Linked DNA regions of Homo sapiens. The protein of the gene in region 5 interacts with the protein of the main gene of each other region in a biochemical or structural test. Each region holds a gene or a part of one and is shown on either strand. Other genes may lie near its edges. The genes, in order: PTPRZ1, SLC17A1, IGSF5, GPR12, LIN7A, FZD4 and RSBN1.

Region 1 (3,500 bases), on a different chromosome or scaffold from region 5:
TACTGCCTTGTCTTAACAAATTTAAGAGTTTCACCATTCAATAAATAATCAGGTTTCAAGCGATCATCCTCTGTTTCTCTCTCTTCTTTCTTCCCTCCAAGTTATCAACTTCTGTGGACTTGTATGTATTTGCTACCTTCTCTTTTCCTTCCTGGATATTTCTCTGATTCCCTGTGTTCCATGCTACATCTTCACCTTCCCAGAGAAGACACTCCCTTAAGGATCACCAGTGACTCACTCCAGAGAATGGCACAATGTCCTACCAATTATACCAATTACATTCATATCAAGTGAGATAATGTATCTGAAAGTGCTTGTTAAACATTAAAGAATTCTATAAAGAGGATGATATTATTATATCCCAAATGATCTATAAATTTCCACTGTGACTGCCACCGTGTAAGAGGCTTTTAACCAAGCTTCCTGATTCCCTGTCTCCCTCGGCTTCAATCCATCCTATGCTCTGATACCTGAGTTATCTTCCTGAAATAAAGAGATCTATTCCAGTCATTTCACTGCTCAAAACCCTTTAGTAATTTCCCATTGTACAATGAGTAGATTTCAAACACAAAACTCTTCAATTGGCCATTGTAAATCCTACCTACCATTTGAGACCTTTTACTGTTATACTCCTCTCCCCACTGTCCCCTCCCTCCAATTACCACGTTCTCACTTTCAGTCCATGTTTCTCTGCATGCCAACCTTAATCCCTCTGATGCCTTCTGCTCCCATGGTGACCCCTGAAGCTCTATCCATTTATCCTGAATGGTCTATATCCAATCCCATCTCCTACTAGAAACCTTCTAAGAGGTGAATTTAAGACTAAATATATCTCCACACAGCTCACAGTCTCATATGCCAGAAACTCCATCATGTATGAGACCTACTTACGTATGCATCTTTCTATCTTGTAAAAGTTCAGCTGGCCATGAGAAGAATAGTCTCTCTGGAGGAATATTTATCCCAAGGAAGATGCTCAAAAATGATTCATTAAATTAATTTGTACTTGCATCATCACTAATAAGTATATTAAAGGAGTTATTTGAAACACCTAGAAAAGTTCATTGTTAATTTTTAAATGGAGTTATTGGTGCTTTTCAAATACAGTAAAAAGAAATAGCCTATACCTGATTAATAATTTCATAAAACACACAAATTGCTAAAATGAAAAAGCAATAGCTAAATCTTAATATTTATTTCATAACAGTAAACAAAAAGCCAAGTTCTAACAAATTATGCATGGAGAAAGAAAATAAATAACAGAGAACAAGAATATGTATCATTGATGAAATGAACGATATTATGTGCTTGTGTCTGGATAAATGTCACTTGGAGTCCCCATCTCGGAAGCTGGTTCATTTACCCTCCTACCAGCTGATAGACTTGAATCTTTGGACCCACTCCAAGACTGCCTGGCCTCCTAAAGTTTCCCTGGCTTTAAAAGACTATGAGGTCAATCACCATAGAGCATACTCCTCCTTCTAGGGTTACTCTGAAGCTGAAACTGCCTTAAGAAGAGAGAGAGAAGGGAAAATTTCCAGGACCTTTGTCTTGTGGCACTAGCTTTGTTTTAGGACAGCATAAGACCTGCAAATATCTCCACCTTAAGAAAAATGAACTAAGATTAGTAGTGTCATGAAGTTGGCCTAGATCTGTGGTTTCAGTCCCAGGCTGTGCTCTATAATCACCTGGAGAGTTTTAAGAAAATGTCCATGTCTGGGCTCAGCACCCATACATTATGAAGTACTTGATTTGATGCCCAGGCATCAGTATGATTTAAAAGTCTCCCAGGTGCATAGTCAGCTTGGGCTACTATAACAAAATACCATTTACTGGGTGGCTAACATAACAGACATTTATTTCTCACAGATATGGAGGCTGGGAAGTTTAAGATCAAAAGGCCAGCAGATTTGATTCCTGGCGAGGGCTCTCTTTCTGGATTGCAGATGGCTGCCTTCTTGCTGTGTCTTTACATGGTGAATAGAGAGAGGATTCTGGTCTTTTTCTCTTCTTATACAGACACTAAACCCATCAATGACAGCTTCACCCTCATGACCTAATTACCCTGCAAAGGCCCTGTCCCCAAATACGATCACAATGGCAGGTTAGGGCTTCAACATGAATTTTGGAGAGGACACAAACATTCAGTCCATAACACCAAGTAAGTTCAAAATGCAGCCAGGATTGAGAATTATCAACCTAGATAAATGGTTGTCAGCGTTTTTGTGCACTAAAACACACATGACAATAATATCCCACATGCTCCTCAAGGGTATCCTTATGCTCCTTTGGGCAGATCATGATTTTGCACAACTCTGTGTAGCAGCTGAGACAATACCACCTTGACATATCCTATTCAAGAAAATGTGTCAGAATGCAAGTGGGTAAAAATTTAATAATAGAAATAATTTTCAATCTGATGACAATATGAATAAAAACCATTAGAAAATCTAAAAACTTCCTTATATCTGGCCAGCATGTTCTAAGCATGTAATCAAGACTCTGTTTATTACCATGATCTCTGCTTAAAGGAGTCATTTTAAAAATCAATGTTTTATTTTATTCCTACTCAAGGTACTGAGTTAATCAGTTCAGAGAAAAGAGCTCATAGTGAGACCCATCCTTAGGTAAATACATTAGAGCTTTAGGATTCAAGAAATAGGCAGTTCAGTCAGTAACAGTGAAAAAGTAGAAAATTTATCCAGTAAGTGCTAAAGGGGAAGGCAGAGAGAGAGGGTAGAATGTTTCTCCAAGAGCAGGAAAATATCTGTATTCTCATCATAGTTATGGATATTCTAACAGAAAATCCTTCTTTCTTACTAATGAATAAATTATTTCCAAGTACCCAAGTACTACATTTCCAAGGAAACTTGTAAAAAAAACTATCCCCTGTTAGCATGCACATAAATTGACTTGTACTTATTGAATAAGGCCAAAAACTTCACATTAACCAGTACCCAAAATAACTGAGTTTACTTTAATATCTGTGGGCAAATATCAGAAGGGGAAAACAAAGACAATCAGCCCATTTTACCACACTGGAATATTTAGGCAAAAACATCTGCCAACTCATACTTTAAAAATTTTGTTAACTACAAAGACCCCCAAATGATATTAACACAGTAAAAATATTTTTAACTAATGGTTTCAAATAGCATTAATCTCTTCCCTATCAAACTTTTCATCAAGGTGCTGAGCAAACTTAAGTTTATTTAATTATCTTAAACTCATGCTAAAAGAAAGTGAAGCTGAAGAGGAAATAGCAACAAAAAAAGAAAAAGAAAAGAAGGAAGGATTAAAGGAATGAAGGATAAAAGGAGGAAGGGAGGGAAGAAGGGAGGAAAGGGGAAGGAAGGAAAAATAGAAGGAAGGAGGGAAAGAAAAAAGGAAGGGAGGAAGGTAGTTGAGAAGAAAATAAAGCAAATATCCTAACAAAAGATCATCTCCTTTTTTTCTGCTTTTGACTCCTATGAAGATTTTTAACTGATCCCATGTCCCAT
Region 2 (3,500 bases), on a different chromosome or scaffold from region 5:
GTTTTATTGAAATGTTCTTTTTGTCTTGGTTTTCTGCAATTTAAATATGGTATGCCTAGGTGGCTTTTCTTTGTTTTTGTTTTTGCTATTTATCTTGTTTGGTGTTCTCTGAGCTTCTTGGATCTGTGGTTTGATGTTTGTCATTAATTATGGAAAGTTCTCAGCCAATTTTTGAAAAAAATATTTCTTGTTTCCTATTCTCTCTGGCATTCTGGTCATGCACATGTTACACCATTTGATACTGTCTACAATTTGGGAAAGATCTGTTAATTTTTTAAAATTCTCTTTCTCTTTGCATTTCAACTTTGGGAGTTTCTATTGACCCATATTCATGTTCACTAATTATTTCCTCAGTGGTGTGGAGTCTACTGATGAGCCCCTCAAAAGCATTCTTTGTTATAATTTCCTTGATTTCTAGTATTGCTTTTTCATTCTTTTTATAGTTTCCATCTCTTTACTGACATTACCTATCTTGTTTTTATTTTTTGCTGCATCTACATCTTCTGGTAGATAACAACTGATTATCTTCCAGAGATGAAATTAATGAAACATTTAAATATCCTGCAAGTCAAAAACTTTAAAAATGTAATGTGTCTTCACCTTCCACTCCTAATTTAAAATGCTTTCCCTTTTTTTCCTCTTGTCCAAATTTCTTGATTGTAAAGAAGCCCTAACTCTTGGGTTTTATTCTCTCTCACATAGAAGGATTTACACAACAAGCCCTTCAGAAATACTGAGGCATACTTTAATCATGGGACATTTTATTTAGGTCACTCCTGGCAAGGTAGATGAAGACTTGAGCTTCTTTTTCAAATATAGTATCATATCAGTACAATTCCATATCTACACAAATTAGTTAGCAAGACAGGCTTTTAAACATTTGACTGTGGGGAAAATTATTGATGTACCTTTATATTATCCAGGAGCTTCTTTGTGGAGGTGTTGGGCAAACCATGTGGATCTGTGCTATTCACCATGACTACCATTGTGAGGTTCAGGCACGCACGCTGTGCTGTTATTATAACATTACAACAGTGCACAAGGAAAGACAATCCATAGCGAAAGGAACAGAAACCTGGAACTACAAAGTAAAACAGAAAGTCGCAATTGCTGACAGAGCTGAGATAAAAACATACTTTAACTATAGGAGGGACATTCAGAAATTTGGAGCCCTAGATATTAATTTAAAATTTTATTGTACTTAATGACCTTTGATAATTATTATATAATAAGAAGATGTGAGACTGATATAATAATACCATATTCTCCTTAAAATTGTATTTCCAGCTAGAAGTTCCAAGAAAATCAAGCCAATCTTTCAAGTTCTTTGGCTCAAGTCTATTTTTTAAAAGACCCTTTATAAATACCCTGTGTTACTCTTGGACATAAGTCCCCCTAATTACAACAAAGACATTTTCTGTCAAGAAAACTATTCCTTTTCCAACATTTAAAAAATACTCTGGTTGAAAGACTTATATATGCCCAATGCAGAGAAAAAAATGGCATTTTAAAAAAATGTAATTACTTATTGATATAAGCTAGAGTAATCAGTTGGTGTACAGCCAAACAAGTTCATTGATGGAAGAAAGTAGGGAGTCCAGAAACAGATACACATATATGGTTAACTTTTTAAAAATAAATGTACTAATGCAATCCATTGGAGGAAAGTAAAGTGTTTTTCAACAAATGGCATTTTTTTCAAGAGAAATACAGGTATATGTCTACAAAACAACACATACAGAAATGTTTATAGTAGATTTATTCAAAATAGCAGAATGTTTGGAAAGAATGGACATATCATGGTATGTTAATACAATGCATATTACTCAGAAATAAAAGGAAAGAACTACTTATACACAACAATTTGGATAAATCTGGATGAATTTCAACAAAAACATGTTCAGTTAAAGAAGCTAGATACCAGACAGTATATACTATAGGAATCTAGTTTTATGAAGTTCAAAAACAGGCAAAGTTAATCTATATGGCCCCCTCCATCTCCAAAATCAGCAATGGGAACCTACTTTATGTTGAATCCCTCTCACACTTTGAATCTAGCTACTCTGCCTCTGACCTGTACAACCAGATTTAAAGGGCTCATGTGATTAGATCTCTCCTAACTGCATAATTTCGCTATTTAAGATTAACTGATTTGGGACCATAATACATCTGCAAAACCCCTTGAAGCAGCACCTAGCTTAATGTTTGCTTAAATAACTGGGAGAAAGTGTGTATACACCAGGGGCTGGGAATCTTGAGAGAAAACTTAGAATTCTGCCTACTACAGTCCACCATCTGGCCCTTAAAGACTCATGTTCATTTCACGTGCAAAACATATTCACCCATTTCAAGCTTCCCAAATTCTTCATCTTATTACATTATCAGCTCAAGTTCAAAACCTCATCAAAATCTCATAGCACAAAGTCCAAAATCTCATCATCTAAATCAGGTGTGGAAGAGGGGCCTATGATTAATCCCTCCTAGGGCACAATTTCTATCTGTGGGCTTGTGAAACTAAAGAGACAAGTTATATGCCCCTAACACTTTTACCACGTAATGGTGGAACAGGTGTAGGATAAAGCTATAGACATTCCAGTTCCAAGGTGGGAAAAATAGAGGAGAAAAGGAGTCATCGATCCATAAAGGTTCTGAAGTTCAGCCAGGCCAATGTTGGATTTTTCATAAGGTCTGGAGATAATTCTTGTGGCTCTTGGCTCCACCCTCTGGGCTTTGGGCTGTATCCTCTGTGCTCATTGTTCCACCCAAGAATAAAACAGGGGCCAGGGAGCTTGGGTGCCATCTTGGAATTCTGTCTACTGCACATTCATAGTTAACTAAGAATTTTTTATTGCAAATAAATATTAATATCATAAATAAATAGATTTTTTATATCTATTGAGATAATCATACTGTTTTCCTCTTTCAATTAATTTGTGTGGAGTGACATGTATACATTTTCTAACATTAAGTTACTCTTTTATTTTAAGAATAAACCTGACTTAGTGTTGGTGGTTGCTTTTTTAATGTTTTTATAAATTCTTAGATTTGTTTTGTTCTGTTAATATTTTATTTAGGATTTGGTGTCTTTATAATTTTCATAAGACTATTTTGCTTTATATATTGGAAGCTATTTTATTAGATAATAAATATTTTACATCATCTTACCGAATTGAATTTTATATCATTTTGCAACATTCTTATAGAATCGTTTGAACTAGCAAAAGACTGTAAACAAATTAGATGTTTATAAATCAGTGACCATTTAAATAAATTATAATATATCCATCCATACCAAAGTCATTTGCAGCTATAAAAATGCTAAGGAAAATCTCTGCCAAAAATTGTGGAATACTCTTTAGATAAACTGTTAAATGAAAAAAAGCATTAGTACCCAACAAATAGTTGGCTAGTTTTCTGGCCAACTGAGCTTCCGTTGTTAAAAGATAAGAATATTAGATAAAATATGCTTAAAATAAACCATTTTTTTAAAAGCATGGGTG
Region 3 (2,700 bases), on a different chromosome or scaffold from region 5:
GATTAGCAAGCAGGAGTGAGTGATTAGAAACACCATGACAAATTTGCATCTATTACTAAGTATCCGTAAGGAATTCACTAAAATCCTGACATATTTTAAAAGTCAAATTCTGCTTTAGCAATAGCATGGTTGAGCTTGAGGGACTCAAAGCAGTTGCTAATTATAACCAGCATAGAAATCTGCACCAACCAGTTCAGAGTACGGTCAAATCACAGTCTTGCCCCTAGGTTAAATATGAAGGGGTGGAATGGGCAGTTAAATTCACTGACTGTATCTACATGGAAAAAGAAAAATACTGGGGAAAGGCAGCAATTTATTCTTCATAACAACATTCATGTTAACTTTAAATGAAGTGAATGTACAGTCAGCAAAGATAATTGTGAAGATGTGATGGATTTTTGCAGAAGGCTCTTGTTTTCCTTCTCGGAAAAGGCTTGATTCCCGAATACTATGATTCTTTAAATGACCAACTGAATAGTGAAGAGTTAAGAAAGGCAATACACATTTTTGGTGTTTTTATTAATTAAAGACTACAATGCCCATTTCCAGTTTTTTCACGGTGTGCGGAGTAGGTGAGGTCCATCCTCTGCAAAGCATAGGCCACATCTAATTCATTTGAGGAGATGCAAATAGGTCTGATAAAGGGGCAGATAAAAATGAATGCCTTCATGTAAATATTCAATCATAAGATATTTAGGAACGTGCACATCCATGTTAGAATTGAATCTTACTTTAACTGAGCTCAGTTTTGACAGTCAATTGCAGATTTCTGGTTGACCCTAATTTTTATACTCGTATTTCACTGATAATATGTAATAATACCCCTACATATTAAATATACATAAATATCATCTTCATATGCTTTCAGATAATAAAAACTTTTGAAAGGCATGGTAGAATACAGACTTTTATCTACCATTTGTTGGATTAACAAGTAGGAGTGTTGAATGTTGAGAAAAATTATGATGAATTTGCAGCTTTTACTTAGTAACTTCATGGAATTCACAAAAACCATGAAACCTCTTAAAAGTCACATTCTACTTTGAACTCTGGGAAAATCGATTCCTTCTCTCACTGTCAAGTATCAGTTCTGATGACTCCGACATCTCCTCTTCAGGTAATGTTGGCAAAGCTGCAGGCCAGTCTTAGGATGGAAAGGAAGGATGCCATCGCCGTGTTTTGAATTGTCAGCCAAGTGCTCAGTGGAGCTTGGGGAAGGCTTTGCTATACTACAGTTGTATTACTGACCTTCTCAGGACTGGCCAGATTAAAAGAAGCCTGTGGATGACTTGCTGGCCTGGGTGGACGTTGATCAGCCCGCTGGCAACAGAGGAGGAAAAAAGTCAATTTAATGGGTTGAGATCACTGTAAAATGCAAACTTGAAAAGAGAGCTTCACTCATCTGTTAAGATAAAATTAAGGTACGGAGAGGAACAAAAATGTTAAAATAAGCTCTTCCTTTCTTGCATTATTTCTGGTAACACACAATATAGAAGTTTTCCAAGTTCAGGCCCTAAAGGGCAATCCAATTCCAAGAATCAGTATTTGTTTTGACTAAGGCAAATTACCACGACTCATTGTTTTGTTTTGTGTTTCAATTTTCCTAAGGAAGTTCTTGCTTTACTGGCTAGATTTTTTATGAAAATATAAAATATTTCTAAACTTCTTAAAGAGCGTGCATTGTTTCTAGAACAGGGGGACAAAATTGAAGAACTGACTCCAGATAGATCACCCACCTGTCTCTTTTCCCTATCAGGGAGAAACATAGTCTTCCCTGTTCTCATTCAGAAATGTAATCCCAAACAAACCATTTAATCCTCCAGAGTGGCCAATGCCTGTCTCATAATATTGCCTTATTAAAATGTGTGCAACACTTTTTTCCTGCCAGTCCTGAGAATGGCAGCTCAGGTTCCAGGGCACAATAGCTGCACTTAACATCTTAAATAATGTAACTGGGCATGATAAATTATTCACAATGTGATGGAATGCTAGCAAGTCTTGAGGATAGAATTACTCTGGCTCACGCTCTTAATTTGTTGACTCCCAATAACACAGGGAAAACTGGACAGCGGATGGAACTATGTCAGCAGTGCTTTAAGACATGTGCCTTCTGCTGCTAATATGCTAGAGATTCCTACTGTCGTTTGCTTTTGTTTTCACTGCTGGGTTGTGCAAACATCGCTGTTTTCTAAATTTATCAAGTATGTATTTCTGTTTGTCTCAATGAGGGGGTGATTTGTGGGGAAGGCTTGATCCAGGTCTCAAGTTGTTTATATGCCCATCTTCTGAAAATGACAGAGACAGAGAATTTCCTAAAACAGCCAGGAAAATGCACTGACAGTGAGTTAAGGCACAGGACAAAGAGAGGAAAAGGAGGATTCTTTGTTTTAAATATTCGCCAAAATAAAAAACATTTGCAAATCCCCTGGCTTCATATTGAAATAAAAAAGCATGCCTTTCCCAGTAATTGGTTATTTTAGTAGGAATTTCTAATTTTACTTATTACTTTTACCCTAATGTGTTTCAGCTGCAGTTGCACCCAAATTCATTCTGTTTCACCAACAGGGAAACTCTTGTCTAGAAAACCATGTCAGTACTACATATTCTAACTGTAGATTCAGTCATCAGAGAAATAATCAGAGAAGAAAATTGTCATATTGTATATGACAGTTTTGAAAATGAATCTCTTTTTTCCTTCTG
Region 4 (3,987 bases), on a different chromosome or scaffold from region 5:
CAATGGTGGATCTAATCAATCCTACTTCATATGAAGATCAAAACCTACTTCAGGATTCATTTTAGAAAGTACATATTGGAAAACTATATTGAAAAATGACCCGTTGGAATCTAGATTGACATGGCAACATTTGAAACAAGTGGTCTAGCTAACACAGTCGACCATGCAGAAGGAGTTGCAACATTTATAGAAATACCGAAGGAATTCTCGTGAACAGTAATTGCCGAAAGGAAAGAAAGAATGGATAAGAATGGGTTCACGGTTTCAGTGTCGGTGACATTACTGAGTTCATGTTAGCAAAATCAGGTCCCTTCCAAACACAATTATGTAAACTATTTGTATTGGATTGAAAGGGGTCATATTCTGTTACATACATGCAGCATTAAAAAATCTACCATCATGTAAAAAAAAAAAATAGTCTGGAAAAAGTAAGTCTTTCTCAATTTTCCTCAATCACTCAAATTTATTTTAAAGTCCAGGTAAAAACTCTGAAACTCATTTACTTCTAATAACATCATGGGCGTATCATATCCCTTCCTTTCCTACCCCCAGTCAGCCCTCCAAACAAAGTATAAAAGGAAACCCTTGCCCCCAAGCAAAACAAAATAATGTTGAGTGGAGAGCTCAACAATTTTTTTTAATGGTGAAAACACTGGTAACATTATTTTCACTTCAATCACTTAACTCATCTGAACGATGTCATTGTTTCACGAATGCTAAGTGCTCCTGTGGCTTGAGAGGGAATCCAATGCAAGGAATTCAAGGGAAGCATCTCAAACCTTGGCCAGGCAGTGGAAGTGCTTGGTAAATGCAGAGTCCTCCTGGGTGCAAGGGTGCTACACATCACTGGGCGAGCGCGCTCTCTGGGCGAGACTGGACGGGATGCAGCCGCAGCAAATGAGACAGAGCGCTTTCTGGATCTCTTGGTTTCTGAAAGCATATATGACAGGGTTGATGATGGAATTGTAGGTGGCGGGCAGGAGGGTGGCGTAGGTATAGATGGAGGGGTAGGTGTAATCCGCTATCAAGGAATAGAGGGTGAAAGGCATCCAGCAAGCAGCAAACGTCCCCAGGATGATAGCCAGGGTGGAGACCCCTTTCCGGGTGGTCACATAGTGCGACGTGGCCAGGAAGTGGTGCTGCAGGGCTATCTGATGGGCGTGCCTCATCACAATCTTACAGATCTGGATGTAGAGCTGAAGCATGAGCGCAAACATGAAGAGGAAGGACACCGAGAGGATGGCCGCGTTGTTCTTGGTGAGCGGTCTGACCACGCTGCAGGTGGACTCGTCTCGGAGGCAGTTCCAGCCCATGACGGGCAGCAGCCCCAGGCAGATGGAGGTCCCCCAGAGCATGACGAGCATGACATAGGTAAACGTGACCGTCCTCTCCGAATGGTACGTCAGAGCGTAGTACAGTGAGAGGTAGCGGTCAACAGTGATAGCCAGCAAGCTGCAGACAGAGGCAGAGAAAGAGGCGACAATGAGGCCGATCGTGACCAGCTTGGTGGCTTCTGACTGAAGCAGGTAGGCAAAAACAAAATTGGTGATGAGTCCAATGCCGGCCAGCAGGTCTGCAAGAGCCAGGCTGCCTATTAGCAGGAACATGGGTGCTCGCAGGCTGGGGTTGTGGAAGATGATAAGGACCACAATGGCATTTTCACAGGAGATGAGGGTTCCCGAGGTACACAAGACAATGTCCCAGGGGTTGACTACGAGCTCAGGCTCTGGCTCTACGGCAGGAACCCGGGAGGAGACAGCAGCCGAGATGTTCTCCGCAGCAGCGGCATCTAAATAATCCCGAGGCAGCCCGCTTAAATTGACCTTCAGGTCTTCATTCATTTTAACCCCTGTCCTCTTCAACGAAAAGACAGGCTTTTTAATGTTTAAATACAGCAGGGTGACAATCCAAGATCATGCAAAAAACACACAGACAAACAGAAAGCCAGCCCCTGCTCAGATACCAGTACCAAATGCCACAAGCTTCGGGAATGAGGAACTGTTGGGAAATGAAACAAAAGCCAAAGTCTCTGTGGTTTAAACCCCACAACAAAAATGCCGTTTGGCATTGGGGAAAACACAGGGTAGGACTTCAAAACACCAGCGTGAGCGAGGCAGGCACACACGGACTCGCGGCGGTCTGTTTGCAACAGCGCTGGGAATGCACATTGGAAAATCACATCTTGCATGCTGAAAACGAACAACTGTTTGACATCTGGGCTGCTGCCGAGAAAACCACGCGGCAGCGGCAGGTCTCGAGCCAGGGGCCGCCATCCTCGATGGAATATTTAAATCGCCTATTTCCATCGAACTCCCACCCTCCAAACGCATCCCCCGCGCGCGTGCACATCCTCAAACGCACCCCCGACCGGAACAAAGAGGGGCTCCAGACTCCCCCCGTGCGCACGGGGCAGTCGGGAGGGCCACGAGAGGGAGGTGTGTGCAATGGAAGTACCGAGACAGACAGACAGACAGATGCCCATGCACTGCTGCCGATTCCCTGGCGGCGGGGACGGGAGTCGGACGCGAGGGGGACAGACAGGGTGCGGGGACAGGCGGCCCGCGGGGGCGGGGGGGTCATCGAGGGGGTCACCTTGGCTCGCCCAGGCCGAGGGGGCTCCTCCGGTGCTTCCGAAGCGCGTGGGCTACTCGTGTCGCATGTCGGCGCAGTTGCCCGCTGTGGCAAGGGGGGGGCGGCCGGGCTCCGGAGCGGGCCGGGAGGGCGCGGGGCGCGCACTCCGCGGCAGGTGAGCGGCGCGGCTGCAGGTGAGCAGCAGCCTCGGCTCGCGCGCCCAGCTTTCCCCGCCGCGCCCGCCCGGCCCACACGCTCCCCGCGCGCGCGCCGCCCCCGCCCCGCGCGCGCCCGGCCGCCCGCCCGCCCGCGGGATCCCCGCGAGGCCGCGCGCCCCCACGGGTCAGGGCTGCTCTAGGGTGCGGGCAGGCGAGGGCGGCCCAGGGGCGCGGGGCGAGGGGCGAAGGAGCCAGGAGGCTGAGAACTGCATGGTAGCCCTGCCTGCCTGCCGCGCTGCGCGCCCCACCCCAGCCGGCGGCCCCGGGCTTGCACCGGGCGGGGCAGGGGAGCGCTGCCTGGAGCCCTGTGACCTATTTCGTTCCTGTGGTTTCCCTGGGGAGCTCCAAGTCTCTACAGTCCTGGCTTTTCCACGCCTTTACCTAAACCACTACATTCAGGGCCAAAAGAATTGCTTAGGATGATATTCACGATCAGCAGCAGGGATGCGGGGTGGACAGGTTAGGGAAGCAGATCTTTAAAACAACAAAATGCCCCGCACGCTCTTTTAGAATTGCCCATGGTCCTGGACCTGGTTCATTATCACTGTTCCCCAGGAACATTTGCTTGACTGGATAGATGCTGCTGCTCTGTGGATCATCATTATCATCACCAAATTGCACTTATTAAGCGCTCTTTGAGCTGTGTTTTCAAATGGAAATCATTTACTGAGTTCTTGTAGAAGCTTCCTGCAGACATTGGCCAAACCCCAATTCATTTAGATACTGAAGTGGCACTATTAATTTATTTTTTCATTTTGCCACATCAATGGATTCTAAGATGAAGAACCTGATAGCTGTCTGCTTTTATGATCCCATGCCTCCTCTGGATATAAAAACCAGAGCACCTCATAGATCTTAAGTTCCAAGATGATCCTCCAGTTTAAAGATGGGATAAGGAAAAAGTGTGATAGTCTTGTCTTGCCCTGTCAGAGGTGAAGGTTTTCCCACTGCTTTTCTTCCACTTGCCCAGGGGCTCTTGTATGAATGGAGATGGTCTGCAGGCAAGGGACCCTACAGGGGCATCATCAGCTGACCAGCCTGCCTTCCCCTGGTGCTCACGTCTTCTCTACCCCAGCCCAACAGATTCGGAGCCTCAATCACCCTTGACTTTCTTCCCGCTTCTCCTTCCCTTCTTCCATCAATCAGTTTCTGGCTCTGCAAGGTCACTCCAGCTCTCCCTGCATGCCACTTCTCATCA
Region 5 (3,500 bases):
ATGTCTCAAACACTGTAAAAAAAAAAAAAAAAAAAAAAAAAGGCAAACCAGAAAAACAGTTTCAGTATGTGACTGTCATATACTTAGTGCAAAAGGGTTTTTTTTCTGGTTTATTTGCCCTTTTTTGTTTTTTTGAGACAGAGTTTCACTCTTGTTGGCCAGGCTGGTGTGCAGTGGCCTGATCTGGGCTCACCACCACCTCCGCCTCCTGGGTTCAAGAGATTCTCCTGCCTCAGCCTCTCGAGTAGCTGGGATTAAAGGTGTGCAACACCACGCCCGGCTAATTTTATATTTTTAGTAGAGATGGCGTTTCACTATGTTGGCCAGGCTGGTCTTGAACTCCTGACCTCAAGCGATCCACCTCCCTCAGCCTCTCAAGCTGCTGGGAGTACAGGCATGAGCCACCACACCCAGCCTGCCCTTCATTCTTCTAACAAGTCAATAAAGATCTAAGCAGAATGAGCAGTTGACATGCATGGACAAAAAATAAAAAATATAAATGGACAATAGACCTCAGAAAAGATATTCAAACTCCCTAGTAATCAAAGAAGTATAGACCGACATAAAAATAAATATACAGATATATTTTTTTTTGAGACGGAGTCTTGCTCTGTTGCCCAGGCTAGAGTGCAATGGCGCGATCTTGGCTCACTGCAAGCTCCGCCTCCCGGGTTCATGCCATTCTCCTGCCTCAGCCTCCCGAGTAGCTGGGACTACAGGTGCCTGCCACCACGCCCAGCTAATTTTTTTCTATTTTTAGTAAAGACAGGGTTTCACCATGTTAGCCAGGATGGTCTTGATCTCCTGACCTTGTGATCCGCCCACCTCGGCCTCCCAAAGTGCTGGGATTACAGGCGTAAGCCACCGTGCCTGGTCAATATTTCATTTTTAACTTAAAAATGATAAATATATATTTTAAAATTTGGTGTACAGACAAGGATGTAGGAAAATTGGACTCAGACTGCTAATAACTTAACAAAAACTGGTGAAATTTTTCTGGAGGGCACTATCGTTATGCATTGAATAAGCCCTTATTATAAGTGAATAATTTTATATTAAGAAAAATCTATTCAGGATACAATCAAATAGGCACACATACTTATAAGATAGATACAGAAAACAAAAAACAAATCAATTCTTGGCTTTTGAGTTTCAAAACAGTCTTTTGAACATCATGGCGTAGACAATACTTGGAGAAACTATGCTTCCTCTAAGTAAACACAATGCTGCTTTTTTCCCAATCTTCTGAAGATTCTCCAGGTTAGGATGATGGAGAAGCAAAAAGAAGAAAGTTGTAATTAGACTTTATAGGACCCTACATAAGGAAACCCTGGCTCCTGCCCCTCTGAGCGGATCACCAGGGCAGATGACAGAACCCTTAATTTACAGGATTGAACTGCCAAGGCCTTTTTGCCTTGCTTCTTGGGTAAAGTACAGAGAAAAAAAATCACTGTGCAGTGTGATAGATGGAGACTGAGATAAGGTTAAAGAGTGTCAGACGACCTAGGAGTCACACTGAAGAGGCAGAGAAGGCCACCCTCAATTGTTTGACATTACATTTTCACAATCCAAGCAGAAGGGAAACTCAAAAAGATACTAAATTGAGTTACAGAAAAATAAAGGAAGTGAAATCTTAAGCACCCTTGAATTATACCTTCAGATTCATAATTTCTACTGCAGATTTGGAGACTTAAGGGATCATTTGATCATTGGCTTAGCCACTCAACTAATATGTTTATTAAGCATTTATTTTATGAATTATAGTCTACTACGTTTCTTGAGAAAACATGAAAGGAAGGTAAACTTTGACAGCATCGTGCAATATAAACCCTATTTTCAGTATGTTTGTAATTTCTTTATAACTGGTCCCATGATGATTTGTTAATGCATATAATTTTCCTTTGAAAGGAAAACTTGGTGATTTGGTTGTCTACATACCCTTCTCTAATTTCTTTTTTAATATTAAAACTTACATGTTTATGTTTTAATAATGGTTCACCCAGTTTCTAGGCCAGATCATCAGTCTGTAGACTTCTTCGTGGCTTTTGTTCTATTTGCTTTTATTTAATAGGGTTGGAGATTCTAGGCCAGACCTTTAGAGGCCCATTATCTCTGTTTTGGCACTGTGTCTGCGATTCAGTTGCCACAGGAGGGCTGTGGTACTAATGTGTGTGGGCCATTAGGCTCTCACGGTGGTGGTGAAGAGTTGAGAGAAAAACGGCTGGCTGGTGCACCACACACCAGGCCCTGCAAAACCATCAAGGTTATCCTCTTCCAGTCCCTGCTCTGCCCTCTCCCACACAGTTAACAATGTATCAAAAGCAGACTCCACAGTTTTCAATTCCAGAAATTTTGCCTTCATGCTTTATCTTCAGTTTAGACAAGGACTCAGATTCTCTTTAAGGCTCAACAGAGTCAACAGGTCTGTTGGTTTGGCTCTACTGTCTTTCCCACCAGGACACAGAGCCACTATGAGAGATCTGGGCAGTGTCACAGTTCCTCATTTGTACTACTGAAATGCTTTACTAACATCCTACAAATTATATAATTAAGCAGCTAAGAAGTGAATTTTAGAAAGATATTAAGAAATATAAGCATACTTGAAAAATTTTTATTTCAAACACTCCTCAACTTTGCTTTTTAATTGTTTTCAGAAGCATATCTTGTCTTAAGGATTATTTTTGTGGCCTTTTTTTCCCCACTAGCTTTGCCTACTTTGTAAATACTTTTGAGTACATATGCTTGTCTCCTTAACCTATTATTTATCTCTGGAGTGCTTTTAGTCCATCAGTATAACTTTGTAATAAGAATAAGGCAGTTTTCTCTTCTTCTTTCTTTCCCTTTTAAGGTAAGAACAAGAAATCAAACCATCTTGCCACAGAAGTCTTGTTGCATGAATAAAAAGAAGCCAAAAGATCTACTCAGTTAGGGTATAAATGTTGATGTGCAAGCCCTTCACAGGTATTCCTTGAGCCCTGAAAGTTCAGCATCTATTCTTGCTTTTGACTTAGTCTGTGTCTCACTCTTAATGAAAGTATGCATCATTTCTAGCTAAATATTTAAGACATATTTTGAAATGTGATAGGTTATTTATAAACAGTTAAGCTATTTTTATCAAAGCTGTATATACAAGCACTCCTGATTCAGAGTTGTCTTTTATAAGAACCAGTGTAAGTTTGAGCAATCACTGAAAACTTGTAGCACCAGCTTCCTACATAGGCTGAGAAGGTGGTTCTTATATGACTTTAAGAGCTCTAAAAAGACTTCTTATTTTACAGTGAAACCCCCTCCTCCATTTAAAAGCTGAAATTCTATATTTTTAAGTTTTATCCCCTTGCTTTAAGAGTTTTGTTGTACCTATTGCATTAGCATAAATTAATTTAACAAGGCCTTGCAATGGACGTCTGGTAAAATTGGATTTTATTAAGAAGGTGAGGAGTGATGAGAACAGCCTGAGGGTATATAGTAGGTACCCAGGAAATATTTTGACCAAAGAGAAG
Region 6 (3,500 bases), on a different chromosome or scaffold from region 5:
TGTCTTTCAGTCAAGAGACGCTGTGAACCCGTCCTGAAGGAATTTGGATTTGCCTGGCCAGAGAGTCTGAACTGCAGCAAATTCCCACCACAGAACGACCACAACCACATGTGCATGGAAGGGCCAGGTGATGAAGAGGTGCCCTTACCTCACAAAACCCCCATCCAGCCTGGGGAAGAGTGTCACTCTGTGGGAACCAATTCTGATCAGTACATCTGGGTGAAAAGGAGCCTGAACTGTGTGCTCAAGTGTGGCTATGATGCTGGCTTATACAGCCGCTCAGCCAAGGAGTTCACTGATATCTGGATGGCTGTGTGGGCCAGCCTGTGTTTCATCTCCACTGCCTTCACAGTACTGACCTTCCTGATCGATTCTTCTAGGTTTTCCTACCCTGAGCGCCCCATCATATTTCTCAGTATGTGCTATAATATTTATAGCATTGCTTATATTGTCAGGCTGACTGTAGGCCGGGAAAGGATATCCTGTGATTTTGAAGAGGCAGCAGAACCTGTTCTCATCCAAGAAGGACTTAAGAACACAGGATGTGCAATAATTTTCTTGCTGATGTACTTTTTTGGAATGGCCAGCTCCATTTGGTGGGTTATTCTGACACTCACTTGGTTTTTGGCAGCAGGACTCAAATGGGGTCATGAAGCCATTGAAATGCACAGCTCTTATTTCCACATTGCAGCCTGGGCCATCCCCGCAGTGAAAACCATTGTCATCTTGATTATGAGACTGGTGGATGCAGATGAACTGACTGGCTTGTGCTATGTTGGAAACCAAAATCTCGATGCCCTCACCGGGTTCGTGGTGGCTCCCCTCTTTACTTATTTGGTCATTGGAACTTTGTTCATTGCTGCAGGTTTGGTGGCCTTGTTCAAAATTCGGTCAAATCTTCAAAAGGATGGGACAAAGACAGACAAGTTAGAAAGACTGATGGTCAAGATTGGGGTGTTCTCAGTACTGTACACAGTTCCTGCAACGTGTGTGATTGCCTGTTATTTTTATGAAATCTCCAACTGGGCACTTTTTCGGTATTCTGCAGATGATTCCAACATGGCTGTTGAAATGTTGAAAATTTTTATGTCTTTGTTGGTGGGCATCACTTCAGGCATGTGGATTTGGTCTGCCAAAACTCTTCACACGTGGCAGAAGTGTTCCAACAGATTGGTGAATTCTGGAAAGGTAAAGAGAGAGAAGAGAGGAAATGGTTGGGTGAAGCCTGGAAAAGGCAGTGAGACTGTGGTATAAGGCTAGTCAGCCTCCATGCTTTCTTCATTTTGAAGGGGGGAATGCCAGCATTTTGGAGGAAATTCTACTAAAAGTTTTATGCAGTGAATCTCAGTTTGAACAAACTAGCAACAATTAAGTGACCCCCGTCAACCCACTGCCTCCCACCCCGACCCCAGCATCAAAAAACCAATGATTTTGCTGCAGACTTTGGAATGATCCAAAATGGAAAAGCCAGTTAGAGGCTTTCAAAGCTGTGAAAAATCAAAACGTTGATCACTTTAGCAGGTTGCAGCTTGGAGCGTGGAGGTCCTGCCTAGATTCCAGGAAGTCCAGGGCGATACTGTTTTCCCCTGCAGGGTGGGATTTGAGCTGTGAGTTGGTAACTAGCAGGGAGAAATATTAACTTTTTTAACCCTTTACCATTTTAAATACTAACTGGGTCTTTCAGATAGCAAAGCAATCTATAAACACTGGAAACGCTGGGTTCAGAAAAGTGTTACAAGAGTTTTATAGTTTGGCTGATGTAACATAAACATCTTCTGTGGTGCGCTGTCTGCTGTTTAGAACTTTGTGGACTGCACTCCCAAGAAGTGGTGTTAGAATCTTTCAGTGCCTTTGTCATAAAACAGTTATTTGAACAAACAAAAGTACTGTACTCACACACATAAGGTATCCAGTGGATTTTTCTTCTCTGTCTTCCTCTCTTAAATTTCAACATCTCTCTTCTTGGCTGCTGCTGTTTTCTTCATTTTATGTTAATGACTCAAAAAAGGTATTTTTATAGAATTTTTGTACTGCAGCATGCTTAAAGAGGGGAAAAGGAAGGGTGATTCACTTTCTGACAATCACTTAATTCAGAGGAAAATGAGATTTACTAAGTTGACTTACCTGACGGACCCCAGAGACCTATTGCATTGAGCAGTGGGGACTTAATATATTTTACTTGTGTGATTGCATCTATGCAGACGCCAGTCTGGAAGAGCTGAAATGTTAAGTTTCTTGGCAACTTTGCATTCACACAGATTAGCTGTGTAATTTTTGTGTGTCAATTACAATTAAAAGCACATTGTTGGACCATGACATAGTATACTCAACTGACTTTAAAACTATGGTCAACTTCAACTTGCATTCTCAGAATGATAGTGCCTTTAAAAATTTTTTTATTTTTTAAAGCATAAGAATGTTATCAGAATCTGGTCTACTTAGGACAATGGAGACTTTTTCAGTTTTATAAAGGGAACTGAGGACAGCTAATCCAACTACTTGGTGCGTAATTGTTTCCTAGTAATTGGCAAAGGCTCCTTGTAAGATTTCACTGGAGGCAGTGTGGCCTGGAGTATTTATATGGTGCTTAATGAATCTCCAGAATGCCAGCCAGAAGCCTGATTGGTTAGTAGGGAATAAAGTGTAGACCATATGAAATGAACTGCAAACTCTAATAGCCCAGGTCTTAATTGCCTTTAGCAGAGGTATCCAAAGCTTTTAAAATTTATGCATACGTTCTTCACAAGGGGGTACCCCCAGCAGCCTCTCGAAAATTGCACTTCTCTTAAAACTGTAACTGGCCTTTCTCTTACCTTGCCTTAGGCGTTCTAATCATGAGATCTTGGGGACAAATTGACTATGTCACAGGTTGCTCTCCTTGTAACTCATACCTGTCTGCTTCAGCAACTGCTTTGCAATGACATTTATTTATTAATTCATGCCTTAAAAAAATAGGAAGGGAAGCTTTTTTTTTTCTTTTTTTTTTTTTCAATCACACTTTGTGGAAAAACATTTCCAGGGACTCAAAATTCCAAAAAGGTGGTCAAATTCTGGAAGTAAGCATTTCCTCTTTTTTAAAAATTTGGTTTGAGCCTTATGCCCATAGTTTGACATTTCCCTTTCTTCTTTCCTTTTTGTTTTTGTGTGGTTCTTGAGCTCTCTGACATCAAGATGCATGTAAAGTCGATTGTATGTTTTGGAAGGCAAAGTCTTGGCTTTTGAGACTGAAGTTAAGTGGGCACAGGTGGCCCCTGCTGCTGTGCCCAGTCTGAGTACCTTGGCTAGACTCTAGGTCAGGCTCCAGGAGCATGAGAATTGATCCCCAGAAGAACCATTTTAACTCCATCTGATACTCCATTGCCTATGAAATGTAAAATGTGAACTCCCTGTGCTGCTTGTAGACAGTTCCCATAACTGTCCACGGCCCTGGAGCACGCACCCAGGGGCAGAGCCTGCCCTTACTCACGCTCTGCTCTGGTGTCTTGGGAGTTGTGCAGGGA
Region 7 (3,073 bases), on a different chromosome or scaffold from region 5:
AATGTGAAGTCCCTTTCTTTTCCTTTCCTAGACAGAACCAAAGGCTATCAGTGCTTAGGACAGGTACCTCAATTAAAGATAACTTCACACAAAAACTGATGAGGAAAGAAATCCATTTTGTTGTGTCACATTAATACATCAATGACATAAAAGTCTATACGCCATCTTCATTAATACTCAATGCACTTTCAAGAAAATCCACATCACCAGAATAAAAATTTAAGACTGTCCTCTTTTAAGTAGATACACACCAATTTAAGCAATTAAGAGGCATTAACTACAACAAATGTCAAGTGTATTTTTTCTTCTTCCCCCAAACTAATTGCATCTCAATATGGATGGAATTTTCCCCAGACATCTTTAGGAAAGAAGTCATAAGATTTTCTAAAAATTTTTTTTGAAGTAGTAGGGGATACAGTAGGTGAGGGATTCGTCCTCTAAAAACAGGTTCCAGGTATTTAGAACTCACATATGCTATGCATTTTGTGATGAAACACCAGTAAAGGACAAATCAGACTTTTTTTATTAAAAAAATACTTTACAGGAAAAAAAAAAACTATGCATTCCATTGTCCTATTTTACAAAGAAATAGCTTAACAATTTAACACACTTAGACAGCTACAAAAAAGCACTGTGTTAAAAGGATTATTCACACAAATTTAGATTTAAGACTATTCATTAAAAACCTTTTTAAAACACTCGTTAATGTCAATAAACAAACTAAGGCCACACAACGCAAATAGTCCGCCAGGCAAATATACATTTCATCTATATGCAAAGACCTCTTAGATAAATAAAAGCCACAGGAAAAAAAGTCTTAGCTGCCAATCAAAATGGAGTTTACTCACAGAAAACACTATTACATGAAAATTTACAACATGTGATAGTAGTACATAAGTATTTCTTTAGAGAGAATTGAAAAGTGCTATATTTTAAGAGACAGTGGTCTCAACTACATGCACAAGTGGATCCTAAAAAATGTATGAAGAAAATGGAAGGCCATAATATTTATGGAGAGATACTTGCTTTTAAAGCAACAAACTTTCAAGACAAGGATAGGTCCCTTACGTGCTAAAGAAAAACATTTGTACTGTGCATTTCCTCTACTTGCATGGCCAATAAATACAGCTACGACCTGTTTGAAAAACAAAACAGATGTGAACCTCTGGCATGTGCTAGCTAGTGAAAGGTTCTTTTTTAAAAACCTGTAGCAATGATAAAACAGATTAGAAAGATACAAAATTATCCTAAAGGCATAAATGCAAATAAATTTTTTATGGCAAATACAGATGAAAATATAATGGGCTAATTTATTAATGATTAAGAATATATTCACTAAGCGTTTTCATGGATTTGGGAGTCTTGTTCCTATATTAGCTTTCATTCTAGACAATTAATATTTATATAGGGAAAGGCAATAAGCAAGTTTTTTCCAGTCATTAAGTGTGACTTTTATGCCTAGTAAGACTGATGCAAGACATCTTTTCCTAAAGTTTAGTAAACAACTTTAATAAGCTCCTTTTTCCCCCTACAAGAGCTTGTAATATTAGTCAACTGGTATTCCAACTGTCTCTTAAGGGGAAAGGGCACTTTTCAAAAGTCTTTCACTAAAAAATAATAAAAGTACCAGTTAAACAAATTCTAAGTACTGAATAAGCAAATTAAAGGTACAATTAAACCTAGGAACCAATTTTTAGAGTTAAAACTTTGGAGGAGAGAACATACTATATAGGTTTTTATTATTATTGCTTTATGAATTTGGGTTACCACTTTGAATCATCATCCTACTCCTAGCATATCTTGGTATAGAGAATTACTTCTGGGGCAAGAGGAAGACTTTTATGCTTTTTAATGAATACCATGAAATTATTCTACTTTACTAAGTTAGGAATATTCATTTATTGGGTCCTTTCCATAAGCACATTTAAAAACCATCCCTCTGCTCCACAAAATATTAAAACTTATAGCCACATTGTGCAAGTAATCTCAAGAGCTGGCACAACGGATAATATACCAAAAAGGAAGATCAGCTTAAATTTCAGTTACAACTTCACTGCCATCACTACTTTAACAAATCAGAAGACGCCAGATTGCTCCATGCCTCACTCCACCAAACCAAATAATTTAATGATTTAGAAAAATTGCAATCATTTGTATCACTAAACTAGGATACAGCTTTGAAAGCAGTAAAAAACGCAAAACTTCTGCTTTTATACTCATCAGTCTTTAAAGCATGCTATTAAAATCTAATACTCACATAGGACATTCAGTTTTCAGATCACGTTACTAGCTAAATGTTTCTCTTCATTCTATTGCAATTCTAACATACAATGAATTTATTAGTACATGATTTTAAACATTTTTATTGTACTCTTTTAATGTGTTTATATTGGAGGTGAGGGTAGAATGTTTTATAAAAGGAAAATGGGGATTTGCTTTTGATTGTAGGTCTTTGCAGATCCGCTGGTTCCTGAGTGATAATACACAGTGCTGGCTGTCAGGAGACAGTCTCCTTGTTTATTAGCAATGACCAGCTTGGATGACAGATGGCATCTGCTGGATGGCAAGTGGGAGATGGGGAAATCGGATCTTGGAAGACAAGAAAAAATTAAAAAAAAAAAATTTTTGCTTTAACAGCCTTCTCTTCATGATTATTTTTAAAAGCAAATGTTGCCTGAGAAGAATTTTACTTTGCACAGCCTGGTAAAGCTCTTCTGGACAGAAAAATAAAAACAAGAAATAACCCAAACCCACACACTTTGTGATTAAACCCCTCCCCAACAAAATAACAAAAAACACCCTCAAAGGCAGGTCCCGTTAAAAACTAGTCTGGATAAACTGGAATTTACCCTAGAATTTATACCCAAGATTTAAAAACACCCCTGCAATAATCACATTACCTTTCATACCATTCTAATTACCTTATTTACAAAGATAACTAAAGCCAACATCACTTCCAATTCATAAATGGTTTACATTGAAATGTATCCCTATTTGTCTTCATCCTTTGTAACAGAGAATACATACATATACATATATATAAGGAATAATACAGATTCTAACTAATCACTGC

The links.
Region 1: the proteins of LIN7A (region 5) and PTPRZ1 interact in a test that uses a peptide from one of them, tested with the Homo sapiens proteins (one large-scale study listed by IntAct).
Region 2: the proteins of LIN7A (region 5) and SLC17A1 interact in a test that uses a peptide from one of them, tested with the Homo sapiens proteins (one large-scale study listed by IntAct).
Region 3: the proteins of LIN7A (region 5) and IGSF5 interact in a test that uses a peptide from one of them, tested with the Homo sapiens proteins (one large-scale study listed by IntAct).
Region 4: the proteins of LIN7A (region 5) and GPR12 interact in a test that uses a peptide from one of them, tested with the Homo sapiens proteins (one large-scale study listed by IntAct).
Region 6: the proteins of LIN7A (region 5) and FZD4 interact in a test that uses a peptide from one of them, tested with the Homo sapiens proteins (one large-scale study listed by IntAct).
Region 7: the proteins of LIN7A (region 5) and RSBN1 interact in a test that uses a peptide from one of them, tested with the Homo sapiens proteins (one large-scale study listed by IntAct).

What each region holds. Positions count from the first base shown.
Region 1 is NC_000007.14:121,879,661-121,883,160, reverse strand, and holds part of PTPRZ1 (receptor-type tyrosine-protein phosphatase zeta isoform 1 precursor), read right to left. Parts: intron 1-3,500. UniProt on the Homo sapiens protein: Protein tyrosine phosphatase that negatively regulates oligodendrocyte precursor proliferation in the embryonic spinal cord. Required for normal differentiation of the precursor cells into mature, fully myelinating oligodendrocytes.
Region 2 is NC_000006.12:25,825,553-25,829,052, forward strand, and holds part of SLC17A1 (sodium-dependent phosphate transport protein 1), read right to left. Parts: intron 1,082-3,500; coding exon 909-1,081; intron 1-908. UniProt on the Homo sapiens protein: Important for the resorption of phosphate by the kidney. May be involved in actively transporting phosphate into cells via Na(+) cotransport in the renal brush border membrane. Plays a role in urate transport in the kidney.
Region 3 is NC_000021.9:39,799,882-39,802,581, reverse strand, and holds the end of IGSF5 (immunoglobulin superfamily member 5), read right to left. Parts: intron 1,321-2,700; coding exon 1,225-1,320; 3' UTR 501-1,224; downstream 1-500. UniProt on the Homo sapiens protein: Provides, together with MAGI1, an adhesion machinery at tight junctions, which may regulate the permeability of kidney glomerulus and small intestinal epithelial cells. Mediates calcium-independent homophilic cell adhesion.
Region 4 is NC_000013.11:26,757,987-26,761,973, forward strand, and holds the start of GPR12 (G-protein coupled receptor 12), read right to left. Parts: upstream 2,801-3,987; 5' UTR 2,593-2,800; intron 1,857-2,592; 5' UTR 1,842-1,856; coding exon 837-1,841; 3' UTR 1-836. UniProt on the Homo sapiens protein: Promotes neurite outgrowth and blocks myelin inhibition in neurons. Receptor with constitutive G(s) signaling activity that stimulates cyclic AMP production.
Region 5 is NC_000012.12:80,812,435-80,815,934, forward strand, and holds part of LIN7A (protein lin-7 homolog A), read right to left. Parts: intron 1-3,500. UniProt on the Homo sapiens protein: Plays a role in establishing and maintaining the asymmetric distribution of channels and receptors at the plasma membrane of polarized cells.
Region 6 is NC_000011.10:86,948,896-86,952,395, reverse strand, and holds part of FZD4 (frizzled-4 precursor), read left to right. Parts: coding exon 1-1,254; 3' UTR 1,255-3,500. UniProt on the Homo sapiens protein: Receptor for Wnt proteins.
Region 7 is NC_000001.11:113,761,332-113,764,404, forward strand, and holds the end of RSBN1 (lysine-specific demethylase 9), read right to left. Parts: 3' UTR 501-3,073; downstream 1-500. UniProt on the Homo sapiens protein: Histone demethylase that specifically demethylates dimethylated 'Lys-20' of histone H4 (H4K20me2), thereby modulating chromosome architecture.